Linked DNA regions of Homo sapiens: regions 1 and 2 are each linked to region 3. The links come from fine-mapping of genetic effects on gene expression. A gene starts in region 3. Each other region holds a variant in brackets. All regions are shown on one strand. Distances are from middle to middle. Region 1 has its middle 31 kb from the start of COL13A1. Region 2 overlaps COL13A1 (collagen type XIII alpha 1 chain). Region 3 holds the start of COL13A1 (collagen type XIII alpha 1 chain).

Evidence for each region. PIP is the estimated chance that this variant, and not a neighbour inherited with it, causes the effect.
Region 1: its variant is the best candidate, but not a certain one, in a credible set for the expression of COL13A1 in whole blood (TOPMed, PIP 0.59).
Region 2: its variant is the best candidate, but not a certain one, in a credible set for the expression of COL13A1 in cerebellum (GTEx, PIP 0.82).

The regions. Positions count from the first base shown.
Region 1 is chr10:69,767,964-69,773,182 of GRCh38, forward strand. No RefSeq gene overlaps it. Among named protein-coding and RNA genes, the nearest start is that of COL13A1, 31 kb to the right of the region's middle. RefSeq lists enhancers at 1-307, 308-1,071, 1,072-1,835. The variant A/G (reference allele first, on the strand shown) is at 2,434.
Region 2 is chr10:69,833,444-69,838,662 of GRCh38, forward strand. All of the region lies in intron 2 of COL13A1 (collagen type XIII alpha 1 chain), which reads left to right. Among named protein-coding and RNA genes, the nearest start is that of COL13A1, 34 kb to the left of the region's middle. The variant C/T (reference allele first, on the strand shown) is at 3,191.
Region 3 is chr10:69,799,093-69,804,282 of GRCh38, forward strand. It overlaps COL13A1 (collagen type XIII alpha 1 chain), which reads left to right and starts at 2,814. Exons shown (of 41, transcript NM_001368882.1): 1 at 2,814-3,625. The coding sequence starts at 3,332. It overlaps LOC124902444 (a long non-coding RNA gene), which reads right to left and starts at 2,679. Exons shown (of 2, transcript XR_007062179.1): 1 at 1,954-2,679; 2 at 771-1,044.

The sequences.
Region 1 (5,219 bases), 31 kb before region 3:
AATGTTGTTCTCCCAGCCAAGGGCAGCAAGAGGTGGGCCAGGAAGCTGACAGCACCAGGGAGGCTTCCTGGCTCCCCTGCCCTGCCCAGCCCAGCCCTCCATGTTGGGGTACATCCCCCAGTCTGGTCTGGCTGCCAAAGGTCTGTAAGGCAGAAACAGAGTTACACCACCACCGCCTCTCACGTCCTCAGCCTCCAGCTGGTCAGACTCTCGGGAGGGGCCTGGCAGCTCAGGTGGCTCTGCACCTTCTGTCCTTGAGCTAAGGGACCCCAACGAAGGCAGAACTGAGTCACTCTCCTCTTCTTCAGGCAAAGGCTGGGGGCTGAGGGCTCTGGCCTCGGGTTCCCTCGCTCATCTCAGAGGCTCTGAGACATAGAGCCCCTCTCAACATGGTCCTGTGAGCGTGTGCATGGAGTGTACACGTGGACATGTGTGTATGTGTGTGCATGTGAATGTATGTGTGAGGGCACACATGCATGTGTGTGAATGCGCATGTGTGTGTGTGAATGTGCACACAAGGATGTGGATGTATGCACATGAGTGCATATGGTGCATGTGTGGGCAGGGAATCTGGAGACTGGAGCTTCCAGGGCTGCTGGTGGCTGCAGCAGGCTGAGGGTGATGAGTAAGCTCACCTCCTCTTGCTCTCCTGGCATCCACTGAGTCCCAGAGTTGGGCCATGGGTGCCGTGGCGACCCAATGCATGAGAAAGACCCCATCTCTCCCTCTTGGGGTCACGTTCTGGTGAGGGGAGACAGGAATACACAAATAAACCAACAACACGATGTCAGAGAATAATGCAGGGTGAGAAGAAAATGGAATGGGGGCTGTGGTGGGCATCCTGTCCTTTTCTTCTTCCTCCTCTTCTCTGATTTTGGGAGTGCAGCATGGAATGAAAAGTGAGGTATGAGAGCAAGGGGGTGATGAAACACTTCGGCGTGGTGGGTGAGGGGTCCGGGAAGACCCACATGCTGACGCTTCCTGGCCTTGTCAGCTTGTCCCCCAAGACACTCCCCTGGGATGAAGGACAGGAAGCCCAGGTCTTGCCCCTGAGGTCTGGTGGCCCTCGCTCCTACCAGGCAGAGCTGCCATCCTTGGCTCGTCCGGAAGCCAAAGGCATCCCCACTCTTCCATTTCTGAGTCTGGTAGTTTGCTGCTGGGGAGAAAAATGAAGAAGAAGGAAAAAGGGGAAAATCCCATTTCAATTCTTTGGTCAAAGCACAAGTTTCTCTCCTCCCTTTCTTCCCTTCCTCCCTCCCTCCCTTTTTTTTCTTTTATTTTCTTCCTTTCCCCCAAGAGTAGAAAGAACCAGGGAATATAAACAAAAACGCTCTTAGAACAAATCAGGCCATCTTGTTCCCAAATCCCAGGAAACTCCTAGAAGCTGGGATCTGAGCAAAGGGACAAACGGAGCTGCAAGGCCAGTGGGGGTGGGAACTGGGCTGAGTCAGGGAAGGTCTGTGGGTTCCGCGGAGCCCCCAAAACAGCTGCCTTTTGGGGTCCAGATGTACTACCAGAAGGAAGGTCCAAGAGAGGCCAGAGGGGAGGGCTGAGGCTGCCTGGAGCTCACTGCATTCCTGCCAGGGTGAGTCACTGCCAGGACGCCCTGCTGTGCCGATTTGCAGCAACAGCCTTGGTGTCCCAGGACTCTTGGGCCCCCTCCAGATAGGTTCCTCCAACCCACAAAGAGCTCTCCTTTGCACATCGATGCCCAAAGGACTGTCATAATCACTCAGCCCATTTATGGCTTTGTTTTCTTCCAAAACGTAGCCCCCTGCAAGGAAAAAGCCCCAGCCATATCAATCATTTACTCTTTGATATAAATGAGTCATCCAGCCCTTTTCCAATGGCAGGTTTGAATGAGAAGAAGAAACAGAGCATGAGGACGCTGCATTTCACAGAGCAAGGGACCCCAAGGAAGGCATGGACCTTTCGTGGAGGTTGGGGGTTGCATGAGGGGGAAGATCCAGAAAAGGCAGAGGAGGAGCTGGACACGGCATCCTCAGACTCAGGGTGGGCCAACACCGCCCTGAATGAAACCAAGGCTTTGCAAGACCAACATAAACCAGAGCTCAGCAAGTTTATTTTCTCATGAAGAGCGAATTCTGTGAAAGACAGAGCTAAGTCTTATCAAGCACTGACTAGGTACCAGGTACCTCCCAAGTGCTGTTCCTGCAGTAAAGGAATTCTCACAACCCCCAGAGAGAGAATGGACACTCAGAACCGGTTGGAGCAAGAGGCAGCGCTGGGAGAGGGATCCGCACCTGCCGCTTCTGGAGAGCTTGCTTTCCCACCACACTACGCAGCCTCTGGAACCAGGTTGTTTGCAGCACAGGTGGGCTGATTCCAGGGTCTTATGACCCTGCAAGGCTGGAGGTTGTAAGGCTTAGAGATGGGAAATGACCTGACCAAGATCACACAGCAAAATACCAC[A/G]TGGGCACCCCACAGCCTCACTGCTGCCCAGATTGGTATAGCAAGCATGCCCTTGTCTGAGTCACTAGTGACTTGCTATTGAATGAATGAATGAACCAACAAATGAAGAAATGGGAACAGAGGCTCAGGGAGGTTCCATGTCTGACCCGAGGGCATATGTTTGGGATTCTCAGGGCAAGCCTCCTCAGAACCAGCTGTCCCAGTCCTGCCCAGCCTCTATACAGCACTTGGCTTCTTCTCCTAGCAATTCTCCTATTTTGTCACATTTGAGTTCACAGCCTCCAGAGCGACGTAGGGCCTTGACTTCCTGTTCCTGATGGGCAGGAAAGGTCATGCAGCTCATTAGTGGTGGTGAGGTTGGTGCTGTGTCCCCATCTCTAGCCAATCATACCAAACAGTGGTTGGTCTCTGTGACCCTGTCCCCACCATGCCTGGACTATGAAATCAAAGGGGTTTTCTTGACCCTAAAGGACAGTCAAGCCTGATTCAGGAAGAAGGGCTTGGACATCCACCCGTTTCTCCACGGCGTGCCTCCCCTTTCCAAGCAGCATTTTAGCGTTGTTCACCCAGACCTTCAGACTTCATGGCCAGCTCATTAAGGGATCATGGGTGCAAACAGCCTGTTGACCTCAAGGGAGAAAGTAGAGGGTTTTCCAGGAAAGGGGTGCTGGTGAGAAGATCTCCTCTCGCACTTGTGGCTCAACTTCAGTGAGTTGGATGCCCAGAGGCACTTCCTCTTCAGGGTGTTGGTGCCTCCCTGTTTCCTGAGCTATGGCAGCTCAGAGGGGCAAAGCAAAGGTTTCCAGCCTAGAGAGAGCAATGCTGCACCTTTGCCAGCCGTAGCCCATAGCTGCTTATTCCATCTCACCAAAGTGCAATCAACAAGCACTCACTGGGCACCTACTGCATGTCAGGCACTGTAGTGGGCCCCCCAGGTCCAAAGCTGGGTGAGGAACCAGACTGCCCAGGGTCAGTCTTAGGTTCCCAGCCAGGCTATCAGCATATCATCCTGATGGCAGGGACCACCTTCCATCTCTCCTAGCATCATGCACTGGGGCGGGACTGGCCTCATGGGGGAGGCCAGTATAGAAAGGATGATGGGTTAGATTGCATTTATCTCCATTGTTGAAGGGATTTCTTTCAGACATCTTGAGTTCTTCCAGCCTAAAGCCTGGAGGTTTTTTTGACTGTGGAAGTGCACAGGGAGGGGGGGGGTCTTGGAAGGAGCATGGGATCTTGGAAGGAAGAGACCAGAGAAAGAGCTTTCTCACTAGAGCACAACAGAGAGGTTAGGAGGGCAGGCTGTGGAGTCAGACAGCCTTGTCTGAAACCATGGCTTCTCATCAGGCTGTGTGGCCATAAGTGAGTTACTGAGCCTTGCTGAGTCTTAGTCTCCTCATCTGTAAAATGAGGACAATAAGAATACTTCCCTCATAGAATTGCTGTGAGCCTGAACAGAGCTAATATGTGCAAGGGCTTAGTTCAGTACCTGGCACATATTGAGGGCTGGATAAATAGGAGCTATTATTTTCCCATCGGAATAGAGGAAATATTCCGGCCCCAATGCCATCACTGGATATCAGGCCTGAAGGCACCCTCCAGAGCAGTTATTCCATTATGGCCATTCTACAAAATGGAAGACTGACGCCCAGATATGGGAAGCTGCCTGCCAAAGGTCACATGAGTTGCTAATAAAATGCAACATTAGGGTCAAAATCCCAGTCTGCTGACTCCCCAGTTGGTGCCTTTTTCACTCTCTTTTGCCCAGAGTTGGTAGAGTGGACTCAAAGAACCCCTTAAATCCATATCCCAGGCCCCCCTTCTTCTCCAGCTCCCAGCACAGTGGGGAGATTGGTGGGCTGTGCCCCCTCTTCCCCTGGTAAGAGCCTCAGAAGCTGATTCCACTCTGAGCCAAGGAAGTCTGGAGTGTGCAAAGGTGTCTCTCCAGGCCCTGAAGCCAGGAGTGACATCAGCAAGGCACAAACATCAAGGAGCAGCAGCTCCCTTCCTGGAGCTCTAGTCCCCACCTCTCCCAGCCTACCTCTGGTCCATCCCCATGGCTGTCTGTGCTAGGCTTCTGGGAGATGAAAGGAAGCCAGACATTAATGGTGACAGGTGAGGCAGTCATTGTGCCTCTGGCACCTGAGCACAAGCTTCCCTCCCAAGATGAGACTGCGGAAGCTGGCCTGAAGCCTGGGCTCTGGGCTGGGGGTCCCATCACGGGGCATTTGGCACCCAAGGGAAATGTGGGTACAGACAAAACATCCCTTCTTGCACCTGGAGTCTTGTCTCTGGCCAAACCTTTTTCCTGCTCCTTCTCCCTTGCCACCACCTCATATTTGTCAAAATTCCAGCTTGATGACATGAAACTCACACATATGGCCAAGGAGGAAGCAGAGGGAGACATGGTTATCATCAGCCTGGTCCATAGGAAGTGGAGAGTCAGCTTACTGTCTTGAGGAGCCACTAGCCCTGAGTGCTAGTGTAGGCTCTGCACAAATCCCCCATGTGGCCTAGGACAAGTCAAAGCTCAACTCTGGGATTGTCTCTGCAGCCAAAATTCATTTAGAGGCTCCTCCAGGGCCAATACTCTAGTATTCTTTAATGACGCCTGCCAGGAAGCCTCAACTGATAACCAAATACTAAGCCCTCAACCCACGCTGTGTACCTACTAACTGCTTTACCCTGGTCTTCTGGCAGGATAGGTATATCAGCTAGCTAGTGCCTCAATAATGCTGCATAACAAATGATCCCAAACTCAGTGGCTTAACACAAAAATCAGTTAT
Region 2 (5,219 bases), 34 kb after region 3:
TGCGGGTAGAGGGCTGCTCCAGGCCCTGTGTTCAGTGCCGTGGGATGCAAGGTGATCAGGCAAAGTTCCTTGGTTCAGGGCTGGGCAAGTGCTAAACAGAAGCATAGGCATCTAGTTTGGGAAATGCAAGAAAAGGAGTGACTACTCCTGAAGGGAGGAATCAGAAATGGCTGCATGGAAGAAGTGGCATTTGAAGGAATCCCTGAATGGCAAGTAAGATTTCAGTAAATGAGAATGTGCATGAGGACATTTTAAAACAATGAAACAACATAATAAAGAATAGAGACCTGAACAACTGTGTTTTTTCCACACACACCCCCACACCCCACACCCCACTCTGGGAAATGAGGAATGATCTGGAGCGGTTGTAGTAAGCTCCTGCGGAGGGATGGAGTAGGAGGTACGGCTGGAAAGAAAAGTTGGGGGTTGGGGAGGCAGACCGTGGAGGGAGTTGGACACCACCCTGAAAGCCAGCTTCTATTTGGTGGGTAGCAGGAAACCACGGAAGGTTTCTCAGAGGGATGTGATGTATCCAGCTGTGTATAGCTCAGTGTAGAGGGTGAATTAGGGGCAGGAGAGAAGCTGGGAATGGGCAGCAATGATCTCTCTAAGGCAGCAGTCCCCAGTCTTTTTGGGACCAGTGGCCAGTTTTTCCATGTATGGGGATGGGGGGATGACTTCAGGATGAAATTGTTCCACCTCAGATCAGCAGACATTAGTTCAATTCTCACAAGGAACCTGCAACCTAGATCCCTCGCATGCGCAGTCTGCAATAGGGTTTGGGGTCCTGTGAGAATCTATTGCCACCGCTGACCTCCTGCTGTGAGGCCTGGTTCTTAACAGGTCACAGTCCAGTCCAGATCTATGGCCCAGTGCTTGGGGACCCCCGCTCTAAGAGAAGACACAGAGAAGCAGAGGAAGCAGGTGAGGGGAGTAACGAGAGGGAGGTTGCAGAGGTAACATTAGCAAGTTCTAGCTACCTACTAGGTGTGGGCCAAGGAGGGGTTGAGGCAATTATGAGCCTCTGAGCCCAGGTAACTAATAATAACCATGGCATATATTCAACAGATGACCTTGGGCCTTGTGCTTTAAATACAATATCACTTACATTCTGATCAAGCACCCTATGATGTAAGGCTATGGCTATCCACATTTCAAAAATGAAGAAACTGAGGCTCAGAGATGTTCAGGGTTTGCCTGAGGTCCACGGATAAGGGACAGAGGCAGGACTTGAACCCAGGACTTTCAATGCCAGCGCCTTTGCCCTCCGGACAAGGCAGAGCAGAAGGGGGGTAGGTTGGAGAGGAAGGGTCAAAGTTCTGTTTGGGACAAGCTGGAGGTTGGGAGGTGGGGGATGCAGGATGCCTCATGGAAATGCTGAGGGCCCTGGAACAGTTCGTCCAGAGGGAGAGGGGCTAGAAGCCCATTCTGAGCTTGTGGACTTAGAGAAGAAAGACCTTACCTGTAGCCATCGTCTGGGGACAATGCTCAGGGAAGTGGCCTTACCTGTAGCCACCTGCCAGCAACACTACTCACAGAAGAGAGAGAACAGGAGTGCATCTTGCTGGAGAGCTGGCTAGAAGCACTGAGGTGGGAGACTTTCTGCCCCAGGACATGCCCAGAGCCCAGGGCCCTGTGCCCCTTCACCCAGGACTCACAATCCTGCCCGCAGCACACATGGGTGCTGTGCAGCTTGTCCCAGGCTGCTGGGGGCAGATGAGCTCCCTGCCCTAGACCCAGTGGAGGGTCCCTTGATCTTGCCACCACCTGCTCTGCCCTGAAGGAGAAGGTTCTGCCACAGTGACGCTAAAGGAATGCCAGATGCTCCTTTGGAGGAAAGGAGCAGCAAGTGGGAAGAGCCCGCGACCTCTGCTTGGGCAGTTATAAGAGACTAGAAGGTGGGACATGCCAGACCCATGGATGCAGTCCCTGGCTCTTCCTCCTGGACCCACCCAGGCTGCCCACTCCCTCGATGACTACCCCCACTCTTGTCATAACCCAGCCAGCCTCTCCCCTGTTACTCCCTGGCAAGTTCCTGTTCAGCCACTAAGGCGACTTGGGTGGCCTCTGCTGGCAGTGGCACTCTTGTCCCCACACACCTGGCCCTCTTCACTGCACCCTCCCACCAGCTCTCCAGGTTACGACTCACACTGCCCTATTCTCCTGATGAGGACCCTGAAGCTCAGAATTCTTTGCTCGAGGATACAGGGTTAGGCAGTGGCAGGGTTGGGACTGGAAATAAGCTCTGAAACATCAGAAGGCAAATGCCCCCCAGGGACCCAAGTGCTACCCTGGAGCACAGTGGGAAACCGAGGACTCGGCAGTGGCCGTGATGCTTGTCCAGGGAGCATGGAGTCAGATAAGGCTGGAGGACATTAATTAGTAATGATAACAACAACATCTATTAAGGGCTTACTCTGCGCCTGGCACTGTGATAAGCACTTTATTGCATTGTCTCATTTGATCCTCATAATTACTTTATGTGGCAGGTACTATTATTATCTCCATTTCCATAGAAGACTGGGGCCCAAAGAAGTTCTGTAACGGGGCCAAGGCCACAGAGCTAGTGTGTGTTGAAGCCAGAATTTAAGTAGTCTGAGTCTGGGCAAACCAGAGCAGCATCAGAAGCTCCCCCTGCCAACCTCTAGCTATCTCTCTCTCTCACTCCCTCACTCCCCACCAAACAGTTTTTGAGCACTGGTTCTGTGCCATGCCCCATCCTCAGGAGACAGAGAAGAGCCCACAGTCCAGGAAGGGGAAACACACGGGTAACTCAGTGGCTGCTGCAGAGACCCAGGGCTCCGGTGGGGCTAGGCGGTGCCCAGTGTGGGCTACAGTCCCAGGGCCGCATCCTCCAGGATTCCAGCCCTGGGAGGCCGGCCCCAATCAAGGCGGGGCCAAGGCAGGGACACAGGTCTAGAACCACACTGTTGGTGGCTTGTGCAGCTGGCATTTGGCCCTGAGACATCAGATCTGGGACTCAGAAGGGACCCCAGAGCTCAGCTGACTCGGCTTCCTGGTGAGAGGCCCTCCTACCATGCAAAGGGGAGCTGGCTATGCACATATAAGCAGGGGAGGGAGGGGAGGGTCAGAGCTCCAGCTGCTCATTCTCTTTCCAGCTCACTTCACAAACTCACTTCCTCCCACCCCTCCAGCCTTTGCCATCTGTCTGTGTGGCAGGTACACCAGG[C/T]AGGGCACTGTTGGAATGTCTCCAGTAGGCAAGGTGTGTGGCTGACAAGAGCTGGAGATGGGCAAACCTGGGGCACACAGAGCTACATCCTTGGCAGGCTGGCTCCTCAGCCTCATGGAGACCCTGGGGAGCCTCCTGGAGCTAGAATGAGGACCAAGTATGGGCAGAGGCTCCCTCAGTGCCTGCCTTCCTCTTTAAACCCCAACTGGGGAGGAAATGCCTGCCACAGAAAGATGCCCAGCAGGCGGTGGGGGTATAAGTGGATGCCAGCTTCCCATGTAGTTATGTGAGCTGTCACGGGGTGACCTGGCATACCATGACAGGCCGGAGGGAGGGTGGGGCGGGTCCCAACCTCCCAGGGGCAGCAGGTACTGGGCAGCTGTGCCGTGTGTTCCCGAGACCTGCCTGTTTGTGGTCATGGAGGGGTCTCCATGCCAGGGCTCCGGCTCCAGGGTGCCCAGGGCCCAAGAGCTTTGACAGCCTGAATGTCCTCTTCATTTTCCTATAGGCTTAGAACCTGGATGTGAGTCCTTCTCAACAAAGAACTTACTTTCCCTCGGGGTGTTCGGGAATCTGGACAATGAGGCCCCATCAGCATCCCATGGGGGACCTTACCAATGATCCTGGCTGGTGTCGGTTCTGATTGGTGGGTCTCTGTACGGTTCTAGTTCCAAATGCTTGACCACATCAGCTCCAGCTGTATCATTCTTTGCTCATTGGCACTCAGAGGCACTGGTGTGTCAGCCAATGCCACAGACTCCTGACGCCTTCTGAGGCCAAGAGCTACAGCCAAGCTGGGCACCTGGTTCCGGATTCATCTGTCCATTAGACAGCCTGTCCTTCCTGACAGGTGACACCCCTGCTGTTCATTAAAAGACAGCAAAAGATGCTGCCACAGAAACTGATTGGACCCTGAAGCCACCACCCACCACACAACTATTTCTAGGGATGAAGTCAGATCCAGCCTCTTCTGCGCTTACCCTGGTACATTTTCCCACTGCCTCTTCTCCTCACTTCTGTGGAGGGTGGCAGAATCCCTGGGGAGCTGGAAGTGGGCCTTGACCCTCCTGCTTCATCATCCTCCATGTTGTCCCCCTTGTGGAGTGGCCCCTTAAGGCAGTGGGATCATGTTCCCGTGGAACGGCGATCCTGCCAAATAAATAAATAAACGCAGAGAAGAAGACAGATTTCATTATCCAAAGGAAGCTGAAGCTGGGGCCAATTTCTGATGTTCATTTTAGTGGCACTGTAGTGGGGCTGGATGTTCCTCAGAGCATTTGCCCACCTTAAAAGCCCCCTGTGATGTGACGAGCCACTTTCTCAATCTTGGGAAGCTCCAAGATCTCCCAGCCCTTCTCCAGTGCTGTGGCCATCCTGGTCTTGTCACCCAGTGAACACAGGAGGCCAGGGCCCTGTGGGTTGGTCACCCCTGGACATTCCACCCACAGTGCCTTGGGCAGGGCAAGGTCTGCGCCTGCTCCAAGGCATCCAGGCAGCCCCCTCCTCAAGGGGCCACAGGAGACAGCAGCAGCCACAGCCTTGTGCCTTCCCGGTCCCACTTGTGTCAAAGCTATACAGGCCTAGACAGGATCTGGTAGGAGCCTGGGCTTTAGAGACAGAGCCTAAGGCCGAGAGAAGGCAAGGGGTTCTTCTAGGGTCACCCAGCCAATGCTGGAAACACCTAGACTAACAAAGTGGCAGGATTATCTGCTGGCTGAGTTCTGGGATCCAACTGTGTTACAATGGGCAAGTGACTTGACATCTCTGAGCTGCAGCTTTCTTACCTCTAAGATAGGGATCATGACAACCTCTACCTCCATGCTGTCCTGAGATGAAGGAGATGTATGTAAAGCACGTGGTACAGTACCTGGCATGGGGAGGAGTTTAATCAGTGGTATTGAGCTGCTGGTACTCAGCTCTCCTGAACCGCAGGCCAGGACTCTCTTGACCACCCACATTGCCCTTCCTCCTGAGCCTCTGAAACACCACTACCTTGGGGACCGGCCCTTGCCAGAGGAATTTATTCAGA
Region 3 (5,190 bases):
CTTGAAGAACAGTAGAGGCTGTATGCCTGGGGCATTTTTTCTTCATTTTTGTCTAGGTGTGTAACCAAGACCACAGTTTAAAATCAAAGTCTTTGGGTTAGCATTGGAGGCCCTCTTTCTTCTTACTGCAAACAAGAAAATCTATTTCCTGGTGTTTTTCTTGAGGCATCTGAATCCCCCCCCTTTCTTCTGGGAGCCCTGAAGCACCTTTTGTGGTCTTTACATGTTTTGTGGATTTTCGCTATTCTGCCTTTTGTGGCGGTTTTATGTGAACATGACTTGTCTTCCTTAATCAACTGTTTTTAAAGCTCCTGGAAGGCACTCTTTTCACCTCAGTGTCCCCAGGTCCTGGCCCCCACCTATGAAGAAAGAAGGGTTCAAGATAAGCCACATGAGGCTGTAACTTGTGCCTGGGGTAGACAATGCTCTACCTGAAAGAAAAATCTCCCAGGGCAAGAATTCTAAGCAGTGTGGGAAGAAGAAGAGGGATACCTGGGGATCAGGCCCCTCAACACAAGCTAACTCCTGCTGCTCACAAGCTGCTACTCTCAGCTGTCAGGTAGGGAAAAAATGGAGGTTAACTGTGATCCATTTGCTTTCTCTGGGATGGAAACTTCTTCCTGTTTCACAACTGGGAGCCCAGAGCTAGCTGTGTCTGAGATGGCCCTAGCAGCCATGAATTCCAAAGAAGGAGCCGATGCCCTTTATTGAGTGCCTGCCCTGTGCCAGCACTGTGTTCACTGCTTTACATACATTACCTCATTCAGTCCTTCCAGACGGGTAGATACTTTTATTATCAGCCCATCTTACAAATGAGAAAACTGAGCCTCCGAGATGTTCAGCAGCTTCCACATTGACAAAAGGGAGATTTACACCCAGGTTTCTCTGACTCCAGAGTCCCCCTGGAAGCTCCAGGGTTTGCAATGCTGGGGCCAGGTCAGGCTAGCGCAACACCCTCCTCTTTCAGTTCCCAATCACAAGGATGCTCCAGCTCCAAACTGTTTAGATTTCACTGCCTGAGCATTCCTGAGGGCCTCCAAAGTCCTGAAAGGGAAAAGATCAGTTTGCAGAATAAGGAGGGAATGAAACTAACTCCCCACCTCAGTTCCTCCATTCAGACTAGCCTGGGAGGGGAGTGGGGGAAGTCCAAAGTCCCTGAATTTCCTGGCCTGTACCTCCCAGTGCAGAAACTCTCCAACGCCCCCTGGTGTTCTTCAATACCATCCAAGTCTCCCAAGGATTCATTCCTCTGTAGAGTGGACTGGGACATCCCATCACAGGGATGGAGAAAACAGAGTGCCCTTGCCACTGAAGCCATCAGGAGAATCCTAGAACTGGAACTGGAACCCAGAGCTCCTGGCCACGGGCTCTTTCAGCAGCATCGCCTTCTATTCCTGTTGTCCTCCATAGTGGCTGACTGGCCCAGCAGTCAATGTTACCTTTATTACATATGATCTCAGTACTTACTATGTTACAAGTCCAATATGCACTATTAAGTGTGCCACACTTTATTAGAAGTGCAGTGACACTGTATTATATATCAAGTTCCATCAGGTCAATATAGAAAATGGGAAGTTTGTACTGGCATGCCTTGTTATTTTGAAATGGAATCCCAGCACCACTGCTGCCCCCACCTCCACTGCATATTTGAAAACCCAGTCTACTCTCCTCTGCCCGCTGTTCCAGGAAGACAGGCTTTCTCCCAAAAACTCAGTCCCACCACCTCATTCACAGGAATGTCAACAGGCACAAGGAGATAAAGTCTCTTGGGATACAAATGCTACTTAATGTGGGGGGTGGAGGAGGTGACAAGAGAAGAGAGAAAACTACCAAATGCCCTTCAGGCCACCAGTTTTTCTCTAGTGGAATATAGGAAATGACAACAGGAGAGAGCCTGGTTAGCCCTAAGCCTCCCGCAGGGATGGAACCTGAGTTTGTGTAGGAATTGCTCACCTTTGATGACTGGGATGATTGAGGCAGGCTGGTCTCACCACACAGGGATAGATGGCATGGGTCTCAGATTAATGGCAGGCAAGAAGGGGAGATGTCAGGACTGGCAGGCGGCCCCAATGAGCCACCTCTCAGATACCTGGAATAAGATCTCCTCCGTTTTCAGTGTCTCATACTACCTCAGGTCTTGGTCCTGAGAGGAAGGGCTGCCAGCTCTGCTGCCCCCTGGAGGGCTGACTTTTCACCCCAGAGTAAAGATGTGGTTGGCCGCCCGGCACTGGAGGAGCTGCAGATCTCAGGAGGTACAGAGCCCCCGGGGAGTCGGTTGTCGGGGGAGAAGGAAGGGGAAAGAGGTTGGGGGCTTGGGAGTAGAGGAGCGGTGGCTGAAGGGATCAGGTAGTCCTGATCAGGACGTGGAGATCCACCCACAAGCCCTGACAATAACTCAGTCGAGTTCCTGGAGGGTCTCAAGGGCTGGGAAAGGTGGAGTGGTGCCTGCCCCAACGCGTCCATGGAAGGTGGTGCCCGCCTCACCGCCTCCGTGGAAGGCCAAACGAGCCCTCGGTGTGAATCCGGAGAAAGAGAGGGAAGTGCAGCGCCAGCTCCACTCCACACCCCCTTCCTGCCTATAAATAACCCCAAGTGTCACTTCAAAGAGGACGGGGAGCGCGGCAGAGGGGCTCCCGGGCCGGCGGGCTGGGGCCGCCGGACCTGCTCACCACGCCCCCCACCCTGGGCGAGTTTGCATAAATAAACAAATCCAAGCCGTCGGCCCCGCGGGAGGTGGAGGAGGAGTGACGAGGAGGAGGAGGAGGAGGGAGGGGGGAGGGAGAGATTAGTTTGGGAAGTAGCACGGATTGCTCATCCGATCCGTGCCGCCGCAGGGAGTGTGTCAAGTTACAGAGGCGCCGGAATCGGCCCCTGCGCTCCTCGCCAGCCGCCACGACCCACCTCTGCCCATGGGGCCCTCCGTGTGCGCCCCTTCGCCCGGGGACTGAAACTGACTGGCCCGGGAGACACGAGGCGCCCAGAAGGACTGACAGCGCGGCACCAACTGCTCTGCAGACACTTGAAGGGAAAGACTGGGCGGAGAGAAGGAGAGCCGGTCAGATTCCCCTAACTTTCCTGGACTTGGAACGTTCTTCGAAATAACTTTTTTCTCACCTAGGTGTACCCCAATTACCGCTGGTTGTGCTTTTTCGGCACTTCCTCTCCTACTGCTAATTTTTCCGTCCTCTTTGCCGGGAGCAGCGGAAAGGGACGTTTTCCAGCGATACAAGCCCTTTCCCCCTGCCCCGCAGTTTGGATAGAGCCTTTTGGCAGCGGCTGTCGCCTTTATTTATTCTATTTATTTATTTATTGGTTCTCAAGACGCGAGAGGATGGTAGCGGAGCGCACCCACAAAGCGGCAGCCACCGGTGCCCGCGGCCCTGGGGAGTTGGGCGCGCCCGGGACGGTGGCTCTGGTGGCGGCGCGGGCGGAGCGCGGCGCACGGCTGCCGAGTCCAGGGTCGTGCGGGCTGCTGACGCTGGCCCTCTGCTCGCTGGCACTCAGCCTGCTCGCCCACTTTCGGACGGCCGAGCTGCAGGCCCGGGTGCTGCGCCTGGAAGCGGAGCGCGGGGAGCAGCAAATGGAGACGGCTATTTTGGGACGAGTCAATCAACTGCTGGACGAGGTCTGTGCTCTTTGTTGCTGGCTTTTATCCCTCCCCGCGGCGCCCCCTCGCGCAGCCTCCAGACTGTTCAGCCGGTGTCCGCGGGCGCTCGCTCTCTGCGAGCCCCAGGTTCGCGCGAGTTGCCTGCGGGAGGGGTCGGGGACACGGACAGACGCTGCCCTACCAGGGATTCGGAGGACCTGGTGGGCAAGAGCATGACCCAGCGACTCCCGCCTCGGGCAAGCGCCCCCGGCTTCCAGCGCTGGGAGCGCCCTGGGCACGCCGGGCAGGTGGAGGAAGGCTGGGCGCGCGGAGGCTCGCGGAGGCGGGCAAGCTCCACTCCTCCCTTTCGGGACCCGGCCAGGGTGGTGTGACAGCCGCCCCGCGCCCGCGCAGCGGCAAGCGCGCCCAGAGGCCCAGGCCGAGGCTTACTGAGCCCCCATGGCCCTCCCCCTCCACCCCTTAAGGACCCGGGGGGTGCGGGGAGAGGGGACAGTTCTTGCAGGGGGTGGTGCCCTGGTCTCTGCTCACTGGCCCAGGCCGCTAGGGTCCAAGTGTGGGTCGCCTGGCTCTGCTGTCCTTGGCCACAAATTAGTCCACACCTTCTTTTTCCTAAACCAGGTTTCTTATTTTTCTGGAGAAAGGATGCTTTCTTCCATTCTCCAAATTTTTTTGATCCAAGTAGATTAAACACTACTAGCGTGTCAGGTAGCTATGGCAATCTTCGGAATACAGGAAAAGGCTGTCCCCTCCCCAGGAAGGAGGGACATGCAGCCTCTTTGTGCCACCAGAGGAAAGGCTGGGCCTTGACAGGGTGAGGCTTGATGATCTGTGGGAATCTGGACAGCACAGGGGATTCAGGGCCCAGATAGAGAGGAGGACAGGCAGGTGGGGGCCGCAGCAGTCTGGGAAGAGGTCCTGGAGCAGGTCCTGGCCATGGAAGGTCCTGGCCATGGAAGGTTTCCATGGGGAAGAAATGGGAGAGGATATCTTACTTAGCTGGAGGGAGTGTGCAGCAGTAAAGATCACGGTGGTAGAGGCCAGCAACCCTGGGTTTTTATCCCCACTCTGCTACTTGGAAGCTTGGGACAAACGCTCCAACCCCTCTGAACATGCGAAACAGTGCTGATGTAGCAAACACTGGAGCACAGCTCTAACTGTGGTGGGTGGGGTGCTGTGAGCATTTTGGCAAGATGTACCTATTCCCTATAGCCAGGCTCTTCTCAGCTGCCCCTGCCAGGCTGGCACCTGCTGGAGCAGTTCTCCAGGGTGGCCAAGGAGGAGATTGCAGGGCCAGAGCAGAGAGAGCGGTCACAGGGCAAGCGTACTGGTGCTAGTGGTGCACCCATGACTGCTGCTGTCAGCTCATTCCCACGCCCTGCCAGGCTCCAGGGAATCCGGAGAACTCCATCGGGCCGTCCATGGTTCCCTGGGCCTGGGGTGGAGGTGCAGCATCTCTGGGCTCAGGCAGAATGAGCCCAGACTGGCTGGGTGGTGAAGAAGGTGTCAGGGCAGTGAGAGCTCCTCCAGGTATCTCGGGGGTCCTGGCTGCTGAGGGATAAGCATCTGATTTTCAGGGTTTAGCA